Linked DNA regions of Homo sapiens: regions 1 and 3 are each linked to region 2. Evidence: fine-mapped expression QTL. A gene starts in region 2. Each other region holds a variant in brackets. All regions are shown on one strand. Distances are between the middles of the regions. Region 1 holds the start of LOC124904561 (a long non-coding RNA gene). Region 2 holds the start of ERO1B (endoplasmic reticulum oxidoreductase 1 beta). Region 3 holds the start of LOC124904562 (a long non-coding RNA gene).

Evidence for each region. PIP is the estimated chance that this variant, and not a neighbour inherited with it, causes the effect.
Region 1: its variant is the best candidate, but not a certain one, in a credible set for the expression of ERO1B in monocytes after LPS (Fairfax 2014, PIP 0.64).
Region 3: its variant is the best candidate, but not a certain one, in a credible set for the expression of ERO1B in whole blood (TOPMed, PIP 0.85).

The regions. Positions count from the first base shown.
Region 1 is chr1:236,214,175-236,222,360 of GRCh38, forward strand. It overlaps ERO1B (endoplasmic reticulum oxidoreductase 1 beta), which reads right to left. Exons shown (of 16, transcript NM_019891.4): 14 at 7,750-7,836; 15 at 6,658-6,791; 16 at 927-4,402. The coding sequence ends at 4,342. It overlaps LOC124904561 (a long non-coding RNA gene), which reads left to right and starts at 6,788. Exons shown (of 2, transcript XR_007066961.1): 1 at 6,788-7,711. The variant C/T (reference allele first, on the strand shown) is at 3,427.
Region 2 is chr1:236,277,967-236,286,152 of GRCh38, forward strand. It overlaps ERO1B (endoplasmic reticulum oxidoreductase 1 beta), which reads right to left and starts at 3,992. Exons shown (of 16, transcript NM_019891.4): 1 at 3,716-3,992. The coding sequence starts at 3,817. It also overlaps the pseudogene LOC100130485. RefSeq lists enhancers at 3,387-3,586, 6,171-6,320 and silencers at 3,657-3,706, 3,747-4,336.
Region 3 is chr1:236,245,764-236,253,949 of GRCh38, forward strand. It overlaps ERO1B (endoplasmic reticulum oxidoreductase 1 beta), which reads right to left. Exons shown (of 16, transcript NM_019891.4): 3 at 7,659-7,742; 4 at 6,287-6,328; 5 at 4,122-4,204. It overlaps LOC124904562 (a long non-coding RNA gene), which reads left to right and starts at 73. Exons shown (of 2, transcript XR_007066962.1): 1 at 73-1,574; 2 at 5,663-5,904. The variant T/A (reference allele first, on the strand shown) is at 4,167.

The DNA of each region.
Region 1 (8,186 bases), 64 kb before region 2:
GAAATACAAATGGCTCCTAAACATATTAAAAGGTGGTCAACCTTAGGCATAGTAAAAATTTACATACTGAGCAGTCAGGTGTGTGGCGTGCACCTATAAGCCAGGCTATTCGGGAGGTTAAGGCTGGAGGATCACTTGAGCCCACGAGTTTGAGGCTACGGTGAACTATGATCATACCACTGCACTCCAGCCTGGGTGATAACGTGGGACCCTGTCTCTTTTTTAAGGAAAATAAAAGAATGTACACATTGATATAAATTTTCATCTACCAGAATGGCCAGAATCCAACATTTTAATAACATCTACATTGGTAATGTTGCAGGTTAGCAAGTACTATCATAAATTTTAGATGGTATGTGAATTGATGACTACCCCTATGAAGGACAATATGCCAATATCTTTCAAAATTATAAATGCACACAGTCTTTGCCCCCAAAATTCTTATCTTTGGGAATTTATTCTACAGGTACAATATTTATATAAATGTGAAATGACATATGTACAAGGTCTGGAAACAACCCAGCTGCCCATTAATAGAGGACGGGTTAATTCAACACTGGCACATTCACATAACAGAATACCAAGTATCTACTTCAAAAAATGAGAAAACTATCTAGTCATATGTGAAGACTGCCAAGAAATACTAGGTGAAAAAAATGAAGTCGTATGTATATGATGTCAATTTTTGAGTAAAAATGAGAGAAAAAATAAGACTTTCCATTTGTATATGTTTGTACCTGTCTACAACAGTGTGAATGGAAACCTAAGAAACCAAGAGCACAGGCTATTCATGGTGGGAGATGAGTGTGCAGTGGAGGAAGCTGGGCCAAGGACACAGGAACACATTCACTGAATAACTTTTTATATTGTTTGTTTCTTTTAACCATGTGAATGTATTACCTATTCAAAAAATTAAATAAGATAAGCATATTTTATAAGCTTTATGATTCAATACAAATCAAACAATGCTTTTAATTGTTCCCACTTTGTAGCTGAATGGAAATAGGCCAACTTACAAAATGTCACAAAGGTTCTAGAATCAGTCTTTCTCGTCTCAAATTCTTGCTCCACAACCTAGAATTTGTGACTATGGACAGGTTACTTAGCCTTTTTTATCCTCAGTCTTCTTACTTATAAAACAGAGAAGTAATTGTACCTACCTACTAGTGCTATTGTGAAGATTAACGGTGTATTCTTTTAAAGCCAAACTATGCATGTAAAAGCCCTTAATACAATGCCAGCCAATGCTTGCCATTATGATAAGAAACAACCTCAGACTACTTATAAATACATTTTCTCCCTTCTCCACAGGTTACAATCAAATTCTCATGCCATAAAAAGAAACACTTAAAATAGCGGGGAAAAACAAGACAGAAAAGATTGCAGAAACATGTACTTTAATTCACATTTTCTAGATTCTGGTGGGTACAACAGTAAATTATTTGGAATTCTGTTCAAAATCAAAGCTGCACCTGTAGATATTCCTTAAAATACAGTACACATAGATTTGTGTGTGTGTTTTTTTACCAAATAATTTCCACGATACCATGCACCTAATCTGTGTATTTTGGTGAGTAGCTATGGTTTCTGCAGGTACCTCAGTTTGCAAACTACTGAGAGGTTTACTGTGAACTGTTCCCAAATTTTCAGCTGAAGGCAATGCTGATGAAGATCAAAATAGCTGTCCTTTCTTATATACAGTGGCACATAGGCAAAGTTGAAAAACATGGCAGAGTTTCATATACATACAGAGATTACAAATATCGAATAATTCACAATGTTAAAAATGTCAAAATAAAACGTTTTGACTTATCAAATTTCAAAAGTGTGGAGTCTTATTCTGTCTGATCCTCCTCATAATCTAAGAATCAAAACAGGAGAAACATTCAAAGTTTACCAATTTTAATATATAGTTTGTCTAACTTACATAGATGCCACTTAAGTAAAAAATAAACTTACGCCATTGAAGGAAGGAATATTTTCCTTTTCTTCATTTTCATTACTTCATCAGTGGGTACAATCATTTCTGTCAGTTATATTATCAAGTGCTGGGTTTTTAAATTAGGTGATGAGATAAAGACAAAATGCCAGAGCACCAGCAAAGCATTTTTACAATGCAAACAGTACTCTAGTATAATATCACTTCACGACAAAAGATGTGAATTGGAAAAACAGTTTAGATCACAAGAACCATAAAATGTCACCAGGCTCACACAATCATTTAAGAAATAAAAACACATACACAAAAATGTAGGCTGCCCCTACAATCTAATTTATGATAAAATAAGATGAATTTCAGCCTAAGAATACTTCATTTATTTTCTTAGTTGTGAAAAAATTAGTTAAGAACCTTAAAAAGAACTTTTTACTCTAACCAGATCTTTTAATTTCCTAGAACATACTCTAATATACTAGTTTTCCTAAGCTTGAAACAAATCACAGTACAGAAAAAAACAATAAATGGACATGAGCGAGGATTTTCTCCAGTAAACAGTTTAAATAATAGCCTTTAACTGAGGGAGTGGTGAAATAACACTATCAAAAAGTTCTTTACATTTAGAGTGATAAACAAAGTGCAGATTTTTCACATCTTAAACTCTGAGTGAATACTAAGAATAATTCTTACTAATTTACTAGTTAAATTAATTGGATAGTCACTTTTTAGACAGTTTGCCTTAAGGCCCCCCTCCCCCACCATACAATACTTGCAACCCTCAAGAAAAAGTAGAGGAGGCTCCAATCAAGTCAGCCTTTTAAACAACTTAACAAAAAATACTACCACCATCAACAACAAAACCCCAAGTTTATAAAGGTTTGAAATTAGGTGAGAAAATAAATAACTCTGAGACCTTAATACCCCCACCACATCCCACCAAGAGATGGCTAAGTATTTTTAAGAGGGGTGAGCCAAGCCAACTAAATACAATTTTTTAGATGTCACCAAATCATCAATGAACACATTTCAGACTTTGACAGGATAAAATATGGATTTAAGAGCACTTATTCTTTAATTCAGAAAAGACTAAAGAGTCTAAGGAAAAACTCTAGATCTTGTACCTGCATTACTTCTACACAGATGCAATCTTCCAAATTGTATCTGCTGACATTTAAAAAAAATCAAGATTTTAAATATTGTCTAAAGATTTTAAATCCCAGATTTAGAAAATGACAGTTTAGGACTGTTGGTATGAATCACAGAAAGTCCTCTGTTGGTATGAATCACAGAAAGTACCGTTTATATACAGTGAAAAGAAAAGGTGAGGGGAGAGTAAGCTTAAAGGAGGGTTGACCTAATCTACCTTTTTATATATCCTGTCAGGGAAAAGCACACTGAGTTCGAGGATTGCATAGATTGTATTCTAAAATAAATCCTTTAAAAATGCTTACTTTAAGTGAAAATAGCAAATTTTGTGTATATAATATTTT[C/T]AATTGGCATTATAAATTCATATAATCCCATTTAAATTTTATCAAGAAGTAATCTGTTAAATATTTCTGCAGTGTTTTCTTTCTAAAAGTAACTGACAATTTCCAAAATGTCTTTGTCCCTAAAATTTCTAGGGGCAGAGAAAAGCAAAATCAAAAGGAGTTCTAAGTAAAAGAACACTCTTGGGCCAGCCCATTACACACACAAAATCTGGCTGGGTAGCATAGGGGAGAGGTCTTGTTCACCTTTACCAAAGGAGGTCCTTTAGACTGGAAACAGCAACAATTACAGCAACTAAAAACTGCAAATAAAAACCAATGAAATTGAAGTCCTGGGGAATCTTCAGGAATTTCTGTAACTATGCATTGAAAGGGCCATTCATCATGGTGACAGTTCCAGATTCTAGAAATATTATAGTATTTCTTTATATTATAGAAAGTGACACACACACAGTGAGGCAAGGGTAAAAACACATTAAAAAGCATTGATAAATTTTTCTCACTGACACCAGCCCTGAGCAACATTTGTTCCCTAGTTCTCCTTTTCCATAACAGACTGAACAGTGTTATTAGAATGCAGACATAGCCATTTAAAGTTTGACAACTGGAAATAAAGGATAATAGAATAAAAACAAAACCAATTCTAAAAAAAATAGAATTTTCATTACATGAAAACATATGAAATTAAACACAAAATTAGTATAACTTACATGTTTTAAAAGTATATACTTCATTTATAAATATCTCTAGTTGATAATAATCTATTAAGAATCATAAATATTCAAGTGAGCATTTAAATTTTCTATTTAATAGTTCAGAATTCTTGAAGTCAGATTAGTGTCTTTCTGATGAATGTCCATAATTAAAAGGCTTTCCACAGTCACTTTATGTCTCTAGTTAGACACATAAAAGCCTTTATTACCTACTGTGTTGTAATAAGACTTTAAAATTCTGTAAGTCTCTTATACTTGTAGAAAGCCTATGGAAGAAAGAAAAAGCTTATTAGTAAGGCTAACATGTTGCATACTGTTTCAAATTATTGATATTGTTACATAAGCTATAATTTGAAAGCAAAACCTAAAATAAAAAACCTCAAACACTGAAGCTTCCATGTTTAAATTAGTGTTCTCATTAAGACTGGTTTAGAAGGGGCAAAGGAAGCCTGTTACTTCATACTATCTACAGACATTAGATTAATAATGGGAACAGTGATATGAATAATTCTTAATAAAGAATCTCAAATCATTTACAATTGGTCTAATAAATTTATTTTGCACATTCCTCTTCAAATGATTGCTCTTTACTCAATGTTCCCCAAACACACTAATTTGTCTTATGTTGTTAGCTCCCTAAGGGTAAAGACTCTATTTCATCTCCTGCTGAGTCTCTCTCCTGTGCCCCATACCCATTGATGCTTATAGTATTCAGTAAATGATTACTGACTGACTAAATGAAGTGCTTCTCAGCCCAGGCCAAAAAGTAAAACTCTGGGATGGGAAATATAAAAAAGTAATTCTAAAAGCTCAAGTATCCCTATGTACAATTCAGGGGTGATAGAAGAAAAATCTTTAACTATTTGATAGAAGAAAAATTATTCCTTAATCACTTAGGAGGACAGGCAATGTTCTAAGCCCATCACATATATGATCTCATTATCAGGAAACAAACTAGGAAAGCAGTGATTTGCCTGAGTTCATACCACTACTAAAGGGCAGGCCAGGATTCCAGAACTTTAGGACCCCTGATTCTGAGTCCATTACTCTAGGGAACAATAAAAGGTAATAAGCTCTAGATATAGAACTAAAACAAGAAAGGCTGCATTTGTGAATATTTTTTATGAGATCGAAGGAAATTTTCAATTGTTTTGAAATTCTCAATTGTTTTCATCTTTCTCAATTTAATTTGGACTTAAGAGATGCTTAAGTTATTTACAATATTTTTCATTTCAATTTATTTAAATTTCATTCAGTATCTCCTGTGTTATCTTTCTACAGGCCTCATAAGTGGATGGACTGAATTTTTTATGAAATACCAGTTAATGGATAGTCTATATCTATCCTGTGTCTGAAATCTCAACCTACATAGTCATCTTTAAATACAGGGAAGCAACAGCTGAAATCCTTGTTATTAAGATGGGAAATGGCCAGGTACAGTGGCTCATGCCTGTAATCCCAGCACTTTGGGAGGCCAAGACAGGAGAATCACTTGAAGCCAGGTGTTTGAGACCAGACTGGACAACAAAGTGAGACCCCCATCTCTACAAAAAAAATTTTTTAATTAGCCAGGCAAAATAGCATGTGTCCGTAGTCCCAGCTACTTGGGAAGCTCAAGTGGAAGGAACGCCTGACCCCAGGATTTGGATGCTGCAGTGAGCCATGATTGTGCCACTGCATTCCAGCCTGGATGACAGAGCGAGACCCTCATCTCTTTTAAAAAAAAAAAAAAAAAAAAAAAAAGCAGGGGACATATAATAAATCTGTTTTTAATTTAACTGCTTCTTTTTAACTTAAAACACATGTTAAGAAAACCAAGAAATAATCTTTGTATTACTTAGTCCCCTATTTTTTTTTTTTTAATTCTTCCTCAAGTTGACTTTTTTCTCTTTTTCCCCAAGGAAGCATAGTATTATTTTCTGTGATTCTTTTCCTTCTGTTCTGTATTCCTCAGTTGGCATTACATGTATCTCTGCTGGCAAATTCAAATTATTTTTTAAACCACTGGTGATATAAACAAGCAAGCAAATTATATGTCTCTATACAGAAGTAAATCATGTAGAAATGAGTGAAAGAAAAATGACCTCTGAGCTTCAGAAATAAAGAGCATAGTGCAGGAAAAAGGTGAGAAAAGAAAAAAATAGTAATGAAAATTTAAGAAAAATAAGGAGCAGATGAAGGTTTTAATTTTCTTTTATCACCTTCTCAATCACACATTCCTTACTCCTGCTATTGTAGTTGAACAAGTTATAGCCAAGCAAAAAGAATATTAGAAGAATATCTCCCTTACAAAATTAAGGCAGCAAACTGAAAAACACTGGCAATTGGAAACTTAGTTTTTCCTATGACCTGTAGAGAAACTGACTTGTCAGCATTAAGGCCTCTCTAAGTTAGTACAGATACAATATAAAATTTTTTTTTGTCAACAAAACAAACCCTACTTTTAGCAAAGAAGATTATCTTTGCAGTTTGTTGAAACCCAATGGGAAATCAAAAATCTTCAACATATAATGGTTCTTACCTTCCAAAAGCATTTAAAAGAGCAACTATTTCCTGTCGGGTGAGTTGGAAGCCTTTAGATGGACTATTCTCTGGAAGCTTTTGGATTTCTTTTTCAGAGAATAATATCTTCAGGGCAGTTCCTAAACCCTGAGTCTAAAGAAAATAGCAATAAACTCATAATTAACTTTAAATAATAATAACTAGTAAAAAGGCTTAAAGGAATATATAGCCACTGTTATGCCAGTTAGGAAATTCATATGAACTGAGCTTTTCACAAAAATATTACTACAGTTTCTACTTTCTCACAGGTTATGCATATAATAAACACATCTGAGCAGTTAAGGAAACCTGAATAGTCTTAACACTTATTGAATACATATCATACTATTCCAAATTATTAAAATGACTTTTTTAACCTTGAAAATACCATATTAGGATTACAATGTTCAATTTGTAACCATAAAGGACTTTTTACAGCTTTTAGCAATTCAAAACTCAGAGATTATTGATACCCACACTTAATAATTTCTCAATTATTAGCACTATAGAAAAAGACATTTTATTTCAGTATAGCCTCCACTGTAATAATTTTGTCTCTTAATTTTCTATAAGTTACCATCTTTGTTAGAAAGAGATAAAATATTCAACAATCCTTTTGACACTGGCTTACACAGAGTAATGGACCTGTCTTGCGGAGCTTTCCTGTTTTGACTAAGTGACCTTCTTTTGCTCATTTATACAAATTCAATGACCAAGACTTCATATTTCAATCTTTTTATGTAATTACATTTTACCTTTCTATATACATATGTAAAATACGGATATACTCGGTTCGTAATGACCACCAACTTCACAAATGAATCTGGTATTGTATCAATAGAAACATAGACACAATAAAACTAAAATCACTAAAGAATAATATGAGAAACATCCTTTCACATACATGTAACACATATACTTTAATTTTTTCATCAACAGAAAAAACACCTTGGATCTGCCTATTCCTAAATTCTAATTCAATGAACAATGAGGACATTTTAATAAAAAGCTTGGACTCAGTGGAAAAAATAAAGGTTAGTAATGGCTTCAAAAGAGAAGACAACACATATACCTGTAATTTTCCCCATAATCTGCATTTGTCACATCCAACACAGTCCATTATACGGGAGATATTCTTGAAATGTAATCGGAATTCCTCCTAGCAAGCAGAAAATATTTTCAGTCTAATTAGACTTTTAAAATTGAACCGCATTTGGCTAAACGATAAGTAAGTTTTGATGCTTATTAATAAATCAGTTGTGTTTTTTGTTTGTTTGAGAAGGAGTTTTGCTTTGTCGCCCAGGCTGGAGTGCAGTGGTGCCATCTCGGCTTAGTGCAACCTCCACCTCCCAGGTTCAAGGGATTCTCCTGTCTCCTCAGCCTCCCAAGTAGCTTAGATTATAGGCGCATGCCGCCATGCCCAGCTAATTTTTGTATTTTTAGTAGAGACGGGGTTTCGCCATGTTGTCCAGGCTGGTCTTGAACTCCTGGCCTCAAATGATCTGCCCA
Region 2 (8,186 bases):
CTGATAATTTCAGAACCTAAGGTCATTATGTGTTTGTTTCTGTTGTCTAATATCTGATTCATGGTGCCCTGTTTCCTTGGGTGTTTTGTGATATTTTACTGCTAGCTGTTTATTCTCCTTGGCACTTCATCTTCAATAATTTTTCGAGGTTTGAGTTGAAAATAAATTCCTCCAGAGGTGATGGATATTTGCTTTTATTGGAAACCCAGGGCACACAAATTTGGGACTGCTATGAATTTTCCCAGAATAAATATTTGGCTTGCGAACCTGTGTGAGGACTGTCTCATGGTTACAAATTCTCAAAAGTTTCTTCCCTGCTTCTCCCAGCAAGTTTCTTTTATTCCCTTTACTTAGAATGGGTTTCATTTCTCGTTTACCCTTATACTGAGGATGTAATTGTTTGAAGTCCAGGCTCCAAACAGCTACATCCTCAATATAAGGGTAAACGAGAAATGAATTATGGTGGAGGCTCCTATTAGTTTCCTCTCACTGGGCAGACACGGGGTTATTTCTTGCCCACTCCACTCCATGCAACTGCTAAAGCAGCTCAAGATCTTTAGGGTTTAGGAGAAGCCCTCAGAGTAACGGACTGGTATAGCACTATTTAAGTTCTAAGTTTCTGGCTTTTCATATATTGAGGGGCTCTGTGTATTACTCAATTTTATGCCACCTCAGAAATGCATTTAGAAAAACTTACATATATCTAATTGAAATTACTTTTTAAAGGAAGATTGTTATATCACTTGTATGCACTATGCCTTTAGTTTCCAGTGCTTCACCAAAGTATATTTACATTTCATTTATACGATAATGGGGCATGAGATATACAAACACGTATCATTTTGTGTGTTCAAAAATATTTTTCTGCTTTTATTTTGGAAGGGGATAACATTTAAAATATGTATCTCCTTTAATGACTTTGATTTCTTGTGAACAGAGGTAGTTTTCAAAAATTCTAATTCTTCCCTTTATCAGTTTTCTACCAATTTATTATATGGATGAAGTCAAAGAACTGGCTGAATTCCACTTTTTGATTTTCCTATTTTCCATCTCTTTTTCTATACTAGAGAGAACTGAAAATACCAACATACTGTATAGACCAGAAAGGGTTCCACATTAGGGCTCCACTGTAAAGTCACTCATTCAATTAAGACATTTAAGTTCTTTGAACTTCAATTACCTCAATGGTCCCACTTCGGAGAGATTGTACGTGTAACCATGTTATAGATTAAAGTACTATCTAAAAGATGATCAGGCCAGGCACGGTGGCTCACGCCTGTAATCCCAGCACTTTGGGAGGCCAAGGCGGGTGGATTACCTATGGTCAGGAGTTCGAGACCAGCCTGGCCAACATGGTGAAACCTCATCTCTACTAAAAAATACAAAATTAGCCGTGTGTGGTGGCACACACCTATAGTCCCAGTTACTCGGGAGGCTGAGACAGAAGAATCACTTGAACCCAGGAGGTGGAGGCTGCACTGAGCCAAGATGGCGCCACCGCACTCCAGTCTGGGTGACACAGAGCGAGACTCCATCTCAAAAAAAAAAAAAAAACAGCACAGTAGAAAGTACTGCTGGCGGCCTGGGCGCGGTGGCTCACGCCTGTAATCCCAGCACTTTGGGAGGCCGAGGCAGGCGGATCACCTTAGGTCAGGAGTTCAAGACCAGCTCGGCCAACATGGCAAAACCCTGTCTACTGGGAAAAAAAAAAAAAACACACACACAAAAATTAGCCAGGCGCGGTGGCAAGCACCTGTAATCCCAGCTACTTGGGAAGCTGAGGCAGACAGAATTGCTTGAACCTGTGAGGCAGAGGTTGCAGTGAGCCAACACATGCCATTGCATCCAGCCTGGCCAACAGAGTGAGACACTATCTCAAAAAAAAAAAAAAAAAGAAAGTAAGTACTGCTGGCAACAAAAACCAAATATATTCACTTGGAAGACTGTTTGGCACAATGCTACTTCAAATATTCACAAATCTTTAACTGTTGGACTATATTTATATTCATTTGGATATAATGAAATTAAAAGTACAGGGGCAGGCCAGGTACAGTGGCTCACACCTGTAATCCCAGCACCTGGGAAGCCAAAGTAAGAGGCTCGCTGGAGGCCAGGAGTTGAAGATCAGCCTAATAACATAGTCCCCATCTCTACACAAGAATTTTAAAAATACAGGTGAAATTATAAAACATTAATTACACATAATTAGTGGTAAATGAAAAAAATTTAAAATGAAGTTTCTAGACAGATAAGCATAAATTAATATGTGCTATATAAAAAGAGAAAATGGGAACTCTCATTTCAGAAAAATATCGAATTGTAAATTTCACTCAGAAACACTCAACTAGTGACTAGAAAATAATTTTGCCAAAGACAATTTGGAAAATTTACTTTAGTAAGTCTGCCCAGATTACCACTATCTATTCCATCTCAGTGTTTTCCAAGTGAGGTCCAAGAGGTAGTCAAAAGATAACTTTGCTACAGTTATACTGTACTTGCAATGTTTGTTTAAAATGCTGATATCTGGGCCATATTCCAGATCCAATCAATACATGTGGAGGTAGGGCCAGAGAATCTGCATTTTAACATGTTCCCCAATACCAAAAATTTGCCCCTTTTATTTTTATGGTTCAAACACAGACACAAACGGACTATTCAGGCACTCTGGGATTTAGTGCAGGGCACCATAAAACCATGAAATAAAGTGACTCAATTCAGAAAAACATGTTTTCACGGTTACACTCAGAGTCACCTTCAATTTTTCTTGGATGAGCACTAATTGCTTCAAATGACATCTCCCCTCATCATCAGGCCACCTGAGACCTTCGTTTTATTTTTTTGGCCCTCAGCAGTGCTGCCTCCTTGCAGCAGGTGCAGACAACAAGCAGCAGCACCTGGCAATCAATTCAAATTCTACTGAATAGAAGCAAACACCTCTCTGAAGGCGAAAGGATCTGGTCAGCTAAGCCTCAGATTTCTAGCACACTGAGAACACTTGTAATCATCGCTTCACATCAACAACCAGCCAGCACCTCACGACTGCCAGAGCCAGAGCCTCCATCCACGAGCCACAACGCCCCACTCAGACCCCCCCAGTCTCGTATTGGGACTTACCTGGCGATGCCACTTGGCAGACACAGCTCAGCTGGGTAAAAATAAAGCAATCTTGAGCAAGGGAAGGTGCTCGAGGAAGAGTAAAAGCCCAGAAAGCTCTAGTCCGACAGTTCGAGTGAAGTCTTGCCCCCTCCCAATCCCCTGCGCCTGGCGGGGCCTCGGGGGTCTGCGGAGTGCCCCCAACTCTCAGTCTCCCTCCCTCACTAACTCCTGAAGGGAAGGACGTCACCGTTTCTCTGGGCGCTCGCTCCCTTCGCAAGACAGCCGAGGTGGTTCATGCCCGTCCCATCTCCCGCCACACTCCCAGCCGCTTAACACATCCGAGAGGAAAAAACGAAAACAGCTCAGGGGGACCGTCACCATCTTCCTCTTTTGACTGCCATTACCCGGAGTGTCGCCGTCCCCCCACCCTGCGGGCGGTTCGCAGATGTTTCCCGCACTGGACGGTCAGGTCTCTGCTCCCCGGGTTTTCTGCTCGCCAGAAATCACCTCTTTTCTGGCCCGGCCCTGCCCGGCCCTCCCCGCGTCACAGCCGCGGCCCGTGTGTAGCGGCCGCGGGTGTTCGGCCGGGGGTTCCCGGCCCGCTATCACTCGGGCTTACCTGCGCCTCGACGACGCTCCGCAGGAAGCTCAGGGTGACCAGCAGCTGCACCGCGGCCGCTACCCCCTGCCCAGCGCCTGCCCGGCGGACCCCTTGGCTCATGCTGACCTCTACCCACACCGCGGCCAGCCGGACCCCTCGGGGCCGGGGAACGACGGGCGGCCCAGGCGACGACCCAAGGGGACGGTTCCCAGCGGCCGAGCGACTCCAGGGTCAGAGGTCTGCACTCCAGTCCGGAGGCAGGCGACTCTTTCCCCAACACCCGGCAGCTGCGAGTGAGGCAGGAAAGGCGAGCGCCCCCACTTCATCCCCCAGGCGGCCCCGCCCCCGGCTCGCTTGGCTCCTCGGCCACGCCCCCAAGCGCGGGGCCTTGTGGGAGTTGTGGTCCTGGGCGGTCGCCTAGGCGCCGCGGCAGGAAGGCGGAGCCGCTGAACGAGAGGACTCGGGAACTACAACTGCGAAGGCCGCCCCGCCTCCCCGAGGCCTCGGGCTCCGCGGCGGCCAATGAGGCGGGACCACGCGGGCCTCCAAAACACCGGGGGGTGCGGGCGGGGGAAGCGGGGCGACCTCTTCTCCGGGAAACCAGGCTGAGGACCTCTCTGCGTCGGTCCCTGCTGTCGCTCCTGGAGTCCTCGCAGACGCCAGGCTCTAGGATTCACCCAGTACGCGGGCGAGTTAGGAACGGACGGTGCGGGATCTTTGACTTTCGGTCTGAAGCGTATTCTTTGTCTCATTCATTTTTCTGTAGCCTCACATCTGCTGTGGGTGCCTATGTAAGCTACCTGTGACTTGTAGAGATGGCTTCGGCTCTTTTTTAATTTCATGCACCCTAGATGTGGATGTCATCTCCTGCCCCGCCCCAGCCCGACTCCTAGGTTGACACGTGCGAGTATAACGCATGCTAAAGAATGAAGACAAACCCAAAGGCTTATGATGAAATATGGGGATGGGGTAAAACAAAAAAAAACTTAGAGTGACATAGATTGGGCGCAGATCCCAACTCTAAAACATTCTAGCTAGTTATTGGGCCTTAATTCCCACCTCATATCTTGTTCTAGGGCTACATAAGATTAGATACAGAAAGAGCTGAGTATAGTGCCTAGCACCTAGGAAGCACTCAATAAATGGTAACTGCTATTAGTTTTATTAATGCCTTTGATTTCTACAAAACGAGTAATACATCTCCCTTGTGTTTATGTAGCGTGTATTAGTTTCTCATTGATGCTGTAAGAAACTATCACACATTTAGTTGCATACAACAAAAGAAATTCATTACCTTATAGTACTGGAGATCAGGTGTCCAAAATGGACCTGTAGGGCTGTGTTCCTTTTGGAGGCTCTCAGGGACAATGTGTTTCCTTACCTTTTCCAGCTTCCAGAGGCCACCTGCATTCCTTACCTCATGACTTCACATCTCCTTCACTCTCTCTGCTTCCCTCGTCACATGCCTTCTCTTGTGACCCTAACTCTTCTGTCTCTCTTGTATAAGGACCCTTGTGATTACATTGGTTACAGACCATCCTATCTCAAAATCCTCAACTTGATCACATCTGCACAGTCCCTTTTGCCATATAGGATAACATATTCACAGGTTCCAGAGATTAGGATGAGGATTTATAAATAGAGGGTCATTAATCAGCCTACCACATAGTGGTTTATACCTTTCAGAACCAGCAGAGCATTAAACCAAATGCAGGGTCCTGGGGTGGCTGACTGCATAGGTCACATGCCCATGAAGCCAGTCCTGCCTGTCCTTTTCCCCTCCAGCAACTCTTTCCCTTCTGCCTCCAAACTGTCCAGATCTTCCCTAGCTTAAAAGCAAAAAGAAATTGGCTGGGTGTGGTGGCTCACACCTGTAATCCCAGCACTTTGGGAGGCTGAGGCGAGCAGATCACCTGAGGTCAGGAATTTGAGACCAGCCTGACCAACGTGGAGAAACCCTGTCTCTACTAAAAATACAAAATTAGCCGGGCAAGGTAGCACATGCCTGTAATCTCAGCTACTTGGGAGGCTGAGACAGGAGAATCGCTTGAACTCAGGAGGCGGAGGTTGCGGTGAGCTGAGATCACGCCATTGCACTCCAGCCTGGGCAACAAGAGCGAAACTCTGTCTCAAAAAAAAAAAAAAAAAAATTGTTGCTTGATTTTTCCAGCTACTTTTCCATGTCTCCTTTTCTCTTCCAAACCTATACTTCCTATCTGCTCACTGCCTTCTTCCCTTCATATAAATGTGCTTTTGATAAGAGAAACTTTTTATCAAGTTTGGTAGACTTTTTAAAAGATTCCTTGTCTGTGCTGTATTTGAGGTTGTCAATAACACATACTTCCTGGAATTTTGTTATGCAAAACTTCTTTTTTTAAATTGTGGGTTATAAATTTTCCTATTATAAAATCTCGGGTTCTTTAAGGACTCTCTCTAGTGCCTGGATATCAAAGGCAGAATTCATGGCTTTCCAGAGGCTTGAAATATTTGTTATTAAAGAACAAAGGAAGAAAGTGGGTTCGGGGGTGGAGTAAAAAAAAGAGAGAGAGACAAAGTGGACAGGGAACTTTAATGCAGACAGGGGTCAGATAGCTTTTGTCCTCTTAGTTACCTAATCCAGAAAGTCACAGTAACAAACCTCCCCGTTTGCTTTTGTTTTCAGCTCAGAAGCCTTACACATAACTTCTAGGGACAAATGAGATTTTTCTTGGTGAGTGAAATTGGAAATAGCAGGTGTTTGTCATGAAATAGGGGCATACCAAGACTCACTTAAAGTGGTGTCTGTCATGATCTGTTTTAGTGTTCATTGTTAAGAGTGGTATGACGGGGTTGTTTCTTTGTGAACAGGCAGCCCTCCTCTTTGTTCTCTCATTCTGACTGATTTACCTCTGCTTTCCCTAAAATCAGCTACACTGAAACCAGCATTGTGAGAGGCCCTGGGGATGTGCTATCACCCATGCTTCCTGCAGATGATGTTCAGTTAGAACCTTCCCATTCCTAAGGCTGTGGTTAGAAGTTGAAACAGGAAGAAAGTGCATACACTAAACCCCTTTGATTGCACGCCACAAAAATCAGCTCTAGCTCTAATTTTTTTTGAAATAGCAAATGAAAAAAATGTCAAATTGCTTACAGTACTGAGGCAGATTTCACCACACACCTTTAGAAAGGTAAGTCCATCAGGACAGAATTCAGGGACTCTAAATTAGAGTACAACTCATGATTGAACAGTCTCTTCTAGGGCATTGCCATTATACTTATCAATTCCCATCGCTTTTAGTCTTCTGTCCCTCCTATCAAAATTCACATTCTTTCTGGAGGTTAGCTTGCAGGTAGAATGTGAGCACCTTGATTCACAGTCCTACAGACCACAAGAAATGAGCCAGAGGTAGTTGCACAAACTACTACTTTCTTTTTCTTTTCTTTTTTCTTTTTTTTTTGAAACAGAGTCTCACTCTGTCACCCAGGCTGGAGTGCAGTGGTGCCATCTCACTGCAACTTCCACCTCCCAGATTCAAGCGATTCTCATGCCTCAGCCTCCAGGGTAGCTGGGATTACAGAAGTGTGTCACCACACCTGGCTAATTTTTGTATTTTTAGAAGAGATGGGGTTTCACCATGTTGGCCAGGTTGGCCTCAAACAACTTTCTATTTTTAATAGAGGGGAAAGGGATGCTGGTCAGAGAAAGGCAACAGATGTCTCCTTCAGGATGCTGAGTTTTTATTGAGTACTCCATTTGAATTCACTTCCTTTACCTCAGCTTGTATTCACACATTCATTAAATTATCACAGATGTCTTTCCACGCCGCCCCCCAGTGGATATATTTTTATTCAGCCATTTAGTTTACAACATGAGGTAAAAGGAAAAAGTTCTCCCTGACCAGTATTTTACACAGTTGTAGTGTAAAACATTTTGGACTTCAGGGATTTATAAGGGATTACATTTCTGAAAAGTTGGGATCAGTTTAAACAAGTTTTTTTTTGTTTTTTTTTTTCTCGAGACGGAGTCTTGCTCTGTCACCCAGGCTGGAGTGCAATGGCGCAATCTTGGCTAACTGCAACCTCCGCCTCCTGGGTTCAAGTGATTCTCCCATCTCAGCCTCCCGAGTAGCTGGGATTATAGGCACGCACCACCATGCCCAGCTAATTTGTTGTATTTTTAGTAGAGATCTCAAACAAGTTTTAACTCTGAATTTTCCAGGTGACTCTTCCCTTCCAATAGTAACAAACTCTAGTTAGTTACGTAAGTTTCTTTAAGGCCAAGTTTTATCACTGTTGCTGATATCCTTAGAGCTGAAGCACTGCTATTTCAATCAGTATCCACTAATTCCACTTCAGAAACGAACTTTGTATTTAGTGGAATTTTGGCTTCAGGCTGCCCTTTCTTTGCATAAGCCCATTCTGCTTCACTCTTCAATCGAGGCTTTTCTCCTTTACCCAGTCAACAGTGCTTCATCCCATCCTGTGATAACTTTGCCTACTCTGACCTTAA
Region 3 (8,186 bases), 32 kb before region 2:
TTAGTAGTATTTAAGTAGTATTTTCACCATGTTGGCCAGGTTGGTCTTGAACTCCTGGCCTCACATGATCCCCCTGCCTCGGCCTCCCAAAGTGCTAGGATTACAGGCATGAGACACAACACCCAACCTATGGTATCTTAATTGTGATGATGTTATATGGGTGGACACATGTCAAAACATCAAACTGTATACTTTATATGCAGTGTATCATATTTCATTATACCTCAAAGTAAAGCTGTTTAAAAATCATAGTACCAATCACTGGAGAAGTTGTAGAACAGATAACTGATACACTACTAGTAGCAATATAATTTGGTAGCAATTTTAGAAAACAATTTGGCAGTACCTAATCTCATTTCTAGGTATATTCTCCATAAAAATATACATATGTATGTACCAAATTTTTTTTTTATTTTTTCACAGATAGTGTCTCACTTTGTCACTCAGGCTGGGGAGTACAGTGGCACAATCATAGCTCATTGCAGTCTCAAACTCATGAACTCAAAGTGATCCTCCTGCCTCAGCCACTCAAGTAACTGGGACTATAGGCTCATGCCACTGCACCTGGCTATTTTTTTTTTTAATTTTTTGTAGAGACAGGATCTCACTTGTTGGCCAGGCTGATTTTGAACTCCTGGCTTCAACCAATCCTCCTCCCTTGGCCTCCCAAAGTACTGGGATTACAGGCATGAGCCACCATGTCCAACTGTATCCACCAAAATATTTCTGAAATGGCCCCAAAGCATAAGCTATCAAGAGCAGAATGGAAACATGGCACATTCTTACTATAGAATACTATGTGCCAATAAAAAAGAATTAAACATTACTATGCCCAAAAACATGAATGAATCTCAGACACATGTTAACAAAAAGAAGCCAGATACAACAGAATATGTTCTATATCATTCTATTTATAAACAGTTAAAACTAATCTCTGTCAGTATCTCAAAATCACGGTTAACTTTGGAAGGTGATAATGACTAGGAAAGTACACATGGTAATCTGGACAGCAAGTATAATGCTCTGGATGGTGGCTATAGAGTTGGGTTCACTTTGTAAAGTTACATTGACCTTTACACTTAAGAATTTTCTATTCCACCATATGTGTATTATACTTAAATTTTTTAAGTTTAAAGAATAATTTCTGTTCAACAACAAAAAACTATATGCAAAATTAAAGGACAAATCCTAACAACACAGCCAACAAAGAATTATCACATTATATAAAGAATGCTTACAAATCAGTAATAATTTTAAAATCCAACCCAATGGAGAAAAAAATGACAAAGAATATAAACTGGCAATTTACCCCAAAATCTTCCAATGACTTAAGCCTAGTCCCTAGATCATTCCTCTATTTACACTCTCTCCTTGGTGATCTCATTTAGGTTTATGGCTGCTAAACACCATCTATTCATTGACTGACATCCAGACCTCTCCCCTATTTCAGATTTGTATATCCAACTGCCTACCTGAAATCTCCAAGTGGATGTCTCACAGGCAGCTCAAACTTAACAAATCCAAATTTGACTATAACTTTGTCTCAGACTTGCTCCTCCTCCAGCTGTCCACAGGTCAGTAAATGGCAACTCCATTTTTATAATTCCAAATCTTGTAGTCATCCAAAAGCTCATATCTTCTCAATACCACATATCCAATACTGCAGCAAATCCTGTTAGCTTTATCTTCAAAATACATCCAGAACCTGACCGCTTCTCATCATTTCCACTGCTATCACCCTGGTTTAAATCACCATAATGTCTTATTTGGATTACTACGATAATCACGTAATAAGGCTTCTGCAACATATCAGGCTCCCTCAACACATGCCCTTAACTCCTCTGTTCAAAACCTCCCTGTGAGTTTTATTCCACCCAGTCTAAGAGCAAACACTCATTATAATTGCTTTCAAGGCTCTACAAGATCTCTACCCACCCCACCTCCTGCCCCATCCCTAGCATCTTTTGACCTTGTCTTCTGCTACTTTGCCCTTGATGACTGTGCTGCAGTTACATTGGTCTTATTGTGTTTAAGTCTAGGCATGATCCTGCCATGGGGGTTTTCAACTAACATTTATATATACCTGGAATGCTCATCCCCCAGCCAACCATAGTAAGACTCATGCCTTCACCTTCTTCGGCAATTTGTTCAAATGTTGTATTATCTTCTCTGACCACCCAATTTAAAACAGTGCCACTCTCTCACTCCTAGCCCTCTTTGTTCTTCCCTGCCTGTCTTCCCTAGCATTCATCATCATTTTACTTACTTATTTCTCATATATTTTACTTGTTTATTGTGTTATTTCCTCTGACAAGGATCAAGTTGCACGAGGGCGGAAATTTTATCCATTACGCTACTGGATTCCTAGTACCCTAGAACAGTGCTTGGCACATTGTAGACATTCATTTGTTGAATGAATAAGAAACTCAAATGTCCAATAAATAAAAAATGCTCAAATCCACTAGTAATTACGAAGTATAAAATAAAAACAAGGTACTATTTCACACTCAACAAACATTATCAACTTTTGGTAAGGATGTAGAGAATGATACAAGCTGTCAGCACTGGAGTCAGTATATATTCACACCAAGTACTATGGAATGTCATCAGGCAATATCAAGAATGGGTATTAAAAAGACAATCCTAAGATTCAACAATTCTACTTCTAATGTGAAAAAAAATTTGGGAATGCTCAAGGTGGCATGTTTGTAAAAGTAAATAATTGGAAATAGCTAAACATCCATCAATAAGTGAATAGCTAAGTAAAATATGGGATATTTATATGATGAAAATCATTCATCAGTTAAAAGAATAAATCTGTGTTTCAACATGGACAGATCTAGAAAGCAAAATGTACAATGAAAAATGTAGCAGAATGTTAAATATAGGATATCATTTATACAAAGGAAAAATAAAACCATATACACAAAATAAAACTATCTTATTTATACATATAAATATATAAAAACAAAAACAGACTGGATATACACCAACTAATTCTTGATAGTAGTTACCTCTACTGGATTAGGGAATACAGCATAAGGGATTTTAAATTTATCTGTGATGTTTCTTGTTCCTTAAAACATATGGCAAAAAATGTTAATATTTATTTACTTGGAATGGAGGATTATTTATTTGAAATGGAGGATATGTATGTGGGTGTTTATTATCTTTTATTTTCCTATATTAAATTTTGTCTTCAATAAATAAAATTGCTAACTTATACTGAGTCATTAGCAATTATGGTACATAAATACAAATCTTTTTTTTTTTTTTTTTGAGACAGAGTCTCACTCTTGTCACCCAGGTTAGAGTGCAACGGTGTGATCTCAGCTCACTGCAACCTCCGCCTCCCAGGTTCAAGCAATTCTCCTGCCTCAGCCTCTCAGGTAGCTGGGATTATAGGCACCCGCCACCACACCCGGCTAATTTTTGTATTTTTAGTAGAGATGGGGTTTCACCATGTTGGCCAGGCTAGTCCTAAACTCCTGGCCTCAGGTGATCTGCCCACTTCAGCCTCCCAAAGTGCTGGGATTACAGGCATGAGCCACCATGCCCGGCTCATAAATACAAACCTAATCAAATGGGAATGTAAAGGAATTTCTGAAATATCTCATTCCCAACTACTGATTATGTCTAGTCATTTTATACTACACAATTTGAGGCCATTTATATATTGTTTATGCTGGTTTCTGTGTAGAACAAATAAGGAAAAGTTAACAGAAAAAAAATCTACGAAATTTAACAGGCTAATAACTTTTATCATTCAAAATGTAACATCCAGACTCAATCACTATTTAAAAAGATTTAGGAGTTCAAGCCCCTTCTTCCATAGTAATCAGGAAAAATTGATCCATAAACCCTGTTAGCTGAACAATCTTGTAAATTTCTACTTTTTAAAAGATTTACTATGGATGATACATTCTAGAAATTTAAGGATAAATCAGCCAAGAAGAGGCAAAGCTATTATGAAATTTAGGATAAAGAAAAACTTTTTCTTCCTTTTAAAAATATATTAGTTAAAACTTTAATGGGTTCGAAAATGTTTTACCAAAATCATAAAAAATTGATTCTTGATATCAATGAGAATATTTTCTTAATATTACCAAAATAAAACTTGCCTTAATGTGCTGTTAATTGCTCCCAGTTTATTAGCTTGCTCACAA[T/A]CTTCTAATTCTTTGGTATTGTTTGCCATTTTCAAGTACTGCAAAGAAGTTCGTAAGTTTAGTAAAAATTATTACCTTATTCTTTATTTCAGTTTCTATTGGCAGAATAATCAATCTGTCAACAATGATATACACTAAATATACATACATTCCATTATAAAAATCCCTATCATATGTAAGAAATACAAATGAAAATGAGGCAGAAATTTCCACCAACTAAATATTATTTCCATCAACAACATATTAAAATTTAACAATTAGGCTGGGTGCAGTGGCTCACGTCTGTAATCAGCACTTTGGGAGGCCAAGGCGGGCGGATCACTTGAGGTCAGGAGTTCAAGACCAGCCTGGTCAACATGGTGAAACCCCGTCTCTACTAAAAATACAAAAATTATCCAAGTGTGGTGGCACACGCCTGTAATCCCAGCTACTCGGGAGAGGCTGAGGCAGGAGAATTGCTTGAACCTGGGAGGTAGAGGTTGAAGTGAGCTGAGATCACGCCACTGCACTCCAGCCTGCATGACAGAGCAAGACTCTGTCTCAAAAAAATAAATAAAAATTCAAAAGTAAAAGTTAACAATTAGCACTGATGTGTTGGTGATATCAACTGAAAAAACAACCCTCTTGGGAAGTAAATTTGACCATATATATATATATATATATATATATATATATATATATATATATATCAAACGTGTGTGTGCAAACATATATATATATATGGTCAAATTTAGTTCTAAAGAGGGTTTTTATATAAAAGTTATATATACACACACATATATATATACATACGTACATATATATACACACACACACATACACACACACGTTTGCAAAATGCTTAAACCTTTGAACCTGCAGTCCCACTAGTGAGACCACATCCCAGGGCAACCATTTTTTTAAAAAGGTACAACTGCCTTGGAAAATTATTTGGTATTATTTCTAATGTTGAGATAGGCATGCCTTATGGTTCAGCAATCCTGCCTTTACAGGTAGACCTAGAGAAACTCTTACATGTGTGCACAATGAGACAAAGGACAAAAATGCTAGTGCATTACTGTTTGAAATAGCCAAAAATTGGGAACAACTGAAATGTCCATCAATAGAGGAATGGCTAATATGTGTTATAGTCATACAACTGACTACAGCTATTAAGATGATGAGCAAAATCCACATATACCAACAGAGAAAATTTCAAAAGTGTAAGACTGAGTAAAAGCACAAACTGAAAAAAAGTTTGTAACCTAAAGAAATAGAAAAATATTATTAATATTATTTAAATTAAAAAAAATTTACACACAATAAATTACATATTACTTGTGGATACACATGCAATAAAAGTGTAAAATATATTACTTGTAGATACACCTGCAATAAGAATATAAAATCACAGGATACTTCAGAAAAATGGTTAGCTCTGGGAGGAAGGAATTAGAACGAACTGGGAAATGGCTGAGGGGGTTTCAACTGCTTTTATATGGTTTTATTTATTTCAGATCTGAAGCAAAAATAAATACAATAAAGTAAAAACAAAAGATTACACGGGAGAGAGAGCAAGAAGAAAACGCAAAGGAGGCACAAGAAGGAGACAGAGAGAGAGGGTATGATGATCTTTATTATGGATGCGCAGTAGTGAAAAACAGGAAATAAACGGTTCTCTAAAAACATATCAATGGCAAAATATAATACTCTCATAAAAGGACAAGAACAATAATTAAAAATGAATATCTTAATACCATCTGAAAGTACTCTGCTCAAAATATCTTGATAATTATTTACTCTATACAATATAATTCTGAACCTGCCAGGCTAACTAGTTGAAACAGAAGACTAAAAATAGCTATGTGATAAAACACCTGCTGACTAGGGGATCTGACACTATAGTTACATTTAATAGTTGTTCCAGAGATTCCAAAAACAGTACTGAAGCAATTTCAAAAGAATCTAGAAATGTACAATCTATCTGCTTGACGCAAGAGTTAGGGATTTGGAATTCTGAGGCAAAATGTCTCCATTCCCAACTAACCATAATATGGTTCTTTACTACAGCCACTGTCAGTCAGTAAATGGTAAGTTTCACAATGTAAAGCAGAAACACTCAAGGAAGAGGAGGGACTTACCTTATTAGAATGCCCAGCTTTTATTCCAACCGGAATTTTACTCTTAAAAAAACAAGAAAAGCAAAAAAATTTTTAAGTGATCTTTATTTTTTTTGGAATTTCTTCACGAATTGTCAATGCATTGCTCTATTTCATCAAGCATTTTACTCTATGAGGGGCAAATATACACTCACTCAAATTGTGTTTTCACACTATCTCATAAAGTAAAAGTGTTATCCCAATATACAGACTTATAAATCAAAGTATAGAAAACTGAATGACATACACAAAGTAAGAAAGCCAAAAGCAGCTCTAATAACTATTGCAGTATTTTTTATAGTTTATATAATTTAGGTTGAAAACACTGACAATCACTTCCTTCCACAAACTTTGTTACCATAGAAAAGAAAGTTTTGAAAGTTCAAAATTATTTGCAATGTATTATGTGCAATTTTAACTTCTGCTCTAACAAAGTGTAGGCAATTTTGGATTACTAGAAAGCTTTTTTTGGCCCACACGATTAACCTAGAGTTTACCAATCTAATCTAGGGTTTACCAATGGGAGAAGTGCATGTAGCTGGAACATTCTTTTTCACAAGGCCAATAATTAGTGTTAGGCTTTAATAAATGTATCTGAATTATTACAACCAGTTTATCAAACAGAACTTTAAACGAAATACTTAATACATATTTTATTCTTAAAGGAAACTGAATATTATAAATTTTTAAAGAATGTTCCCTTTAGGAAGGACATTGGTACAGATTTTTAAGGACAACAAACTAGACTAACTGATTAGGTAAGAAAAGCAGAAAGTGAAAGGAAAACAAAGCTTACAACTAATTACTGTTGAAGAAGAGGAATATAATTAATTATGTTAGATAACAAAAATCAAAGTCTAAAATGTAGCATTCTCTTGGTATTAAGTATAGGTTTTTTTTTAAATGTAAATGTAACAAGGCCAAGTGAAAATCTAATTCTAAGCCTGAAATTTCCCCAATTAAATCACTATAAATTTGAAATATAGGGTCCAGTAGCTTGTTTTTATTTTGTTTTTTTTTTCCTATGAAACAAGATGCTGATTCAATAAAGCATGAAATAAAAGACAACTGCAGATCCAATCCTAGAACAGGCCTCTGATTTTCCTTCCATTTTAGAATAAGACTATATTTCCATATTTGATCACCAGTATCACTGGATACAAGTGTCTTCAAACCCATTTTGGTGTCAAGTATAGAATCTTCAATAATCTGGTTCTAAAGGAGAGAGCTGAGAGCATATGAATTTGCTGACACATCCAAATCCATTGACATTAGCCTGAAATAAAATAGAGGTTATGCTTTTCTAAAAGTCCAAGAGAAAATTGGCTTTGCCCTGTTATTTTATTTATTATACCTCTGGACAGGGCTCCACATGACAGTCTTTTATTGAACAGTGGCCATCTTCTGCCCAGAAAGGACAAGGTCGCTTCAGATTAACCTTGAAAGAAAGAACAAAGTTAGTAAACTCATATTATAGTTATGGGGTGCTCTCAAAGTGTCATTGTGTTGGGCACCAGTGACATGGTGGTGAATAAGAAGGAATACTTCCTATCCTCGTGGCACCTATAAGGTTCAGAATTTAAAATGACAGCAATGAGCTAGATCATGCCATTGCACTCCAGACTGGGTGACAGAGAAAGCATTTAGAACTACTTGAATGTCTTCCAGCCTCCTAATGTTATCTTATTAATGAGAATTCTCTCATGCACCCATTTATTCAACAAATAAGAACTGAGCATCCACTATGTGTCAGGCACTGGGTAGGCTATGGGGGGAAAATGGACAGAAAAAGAACTCCCCTATCCCTCTGGAACTTAAAAATCTATTGAAGGAAACAAATTAAATATTTGTAAGTTTAGTACGAGTTGTAGTCAGTGCTACA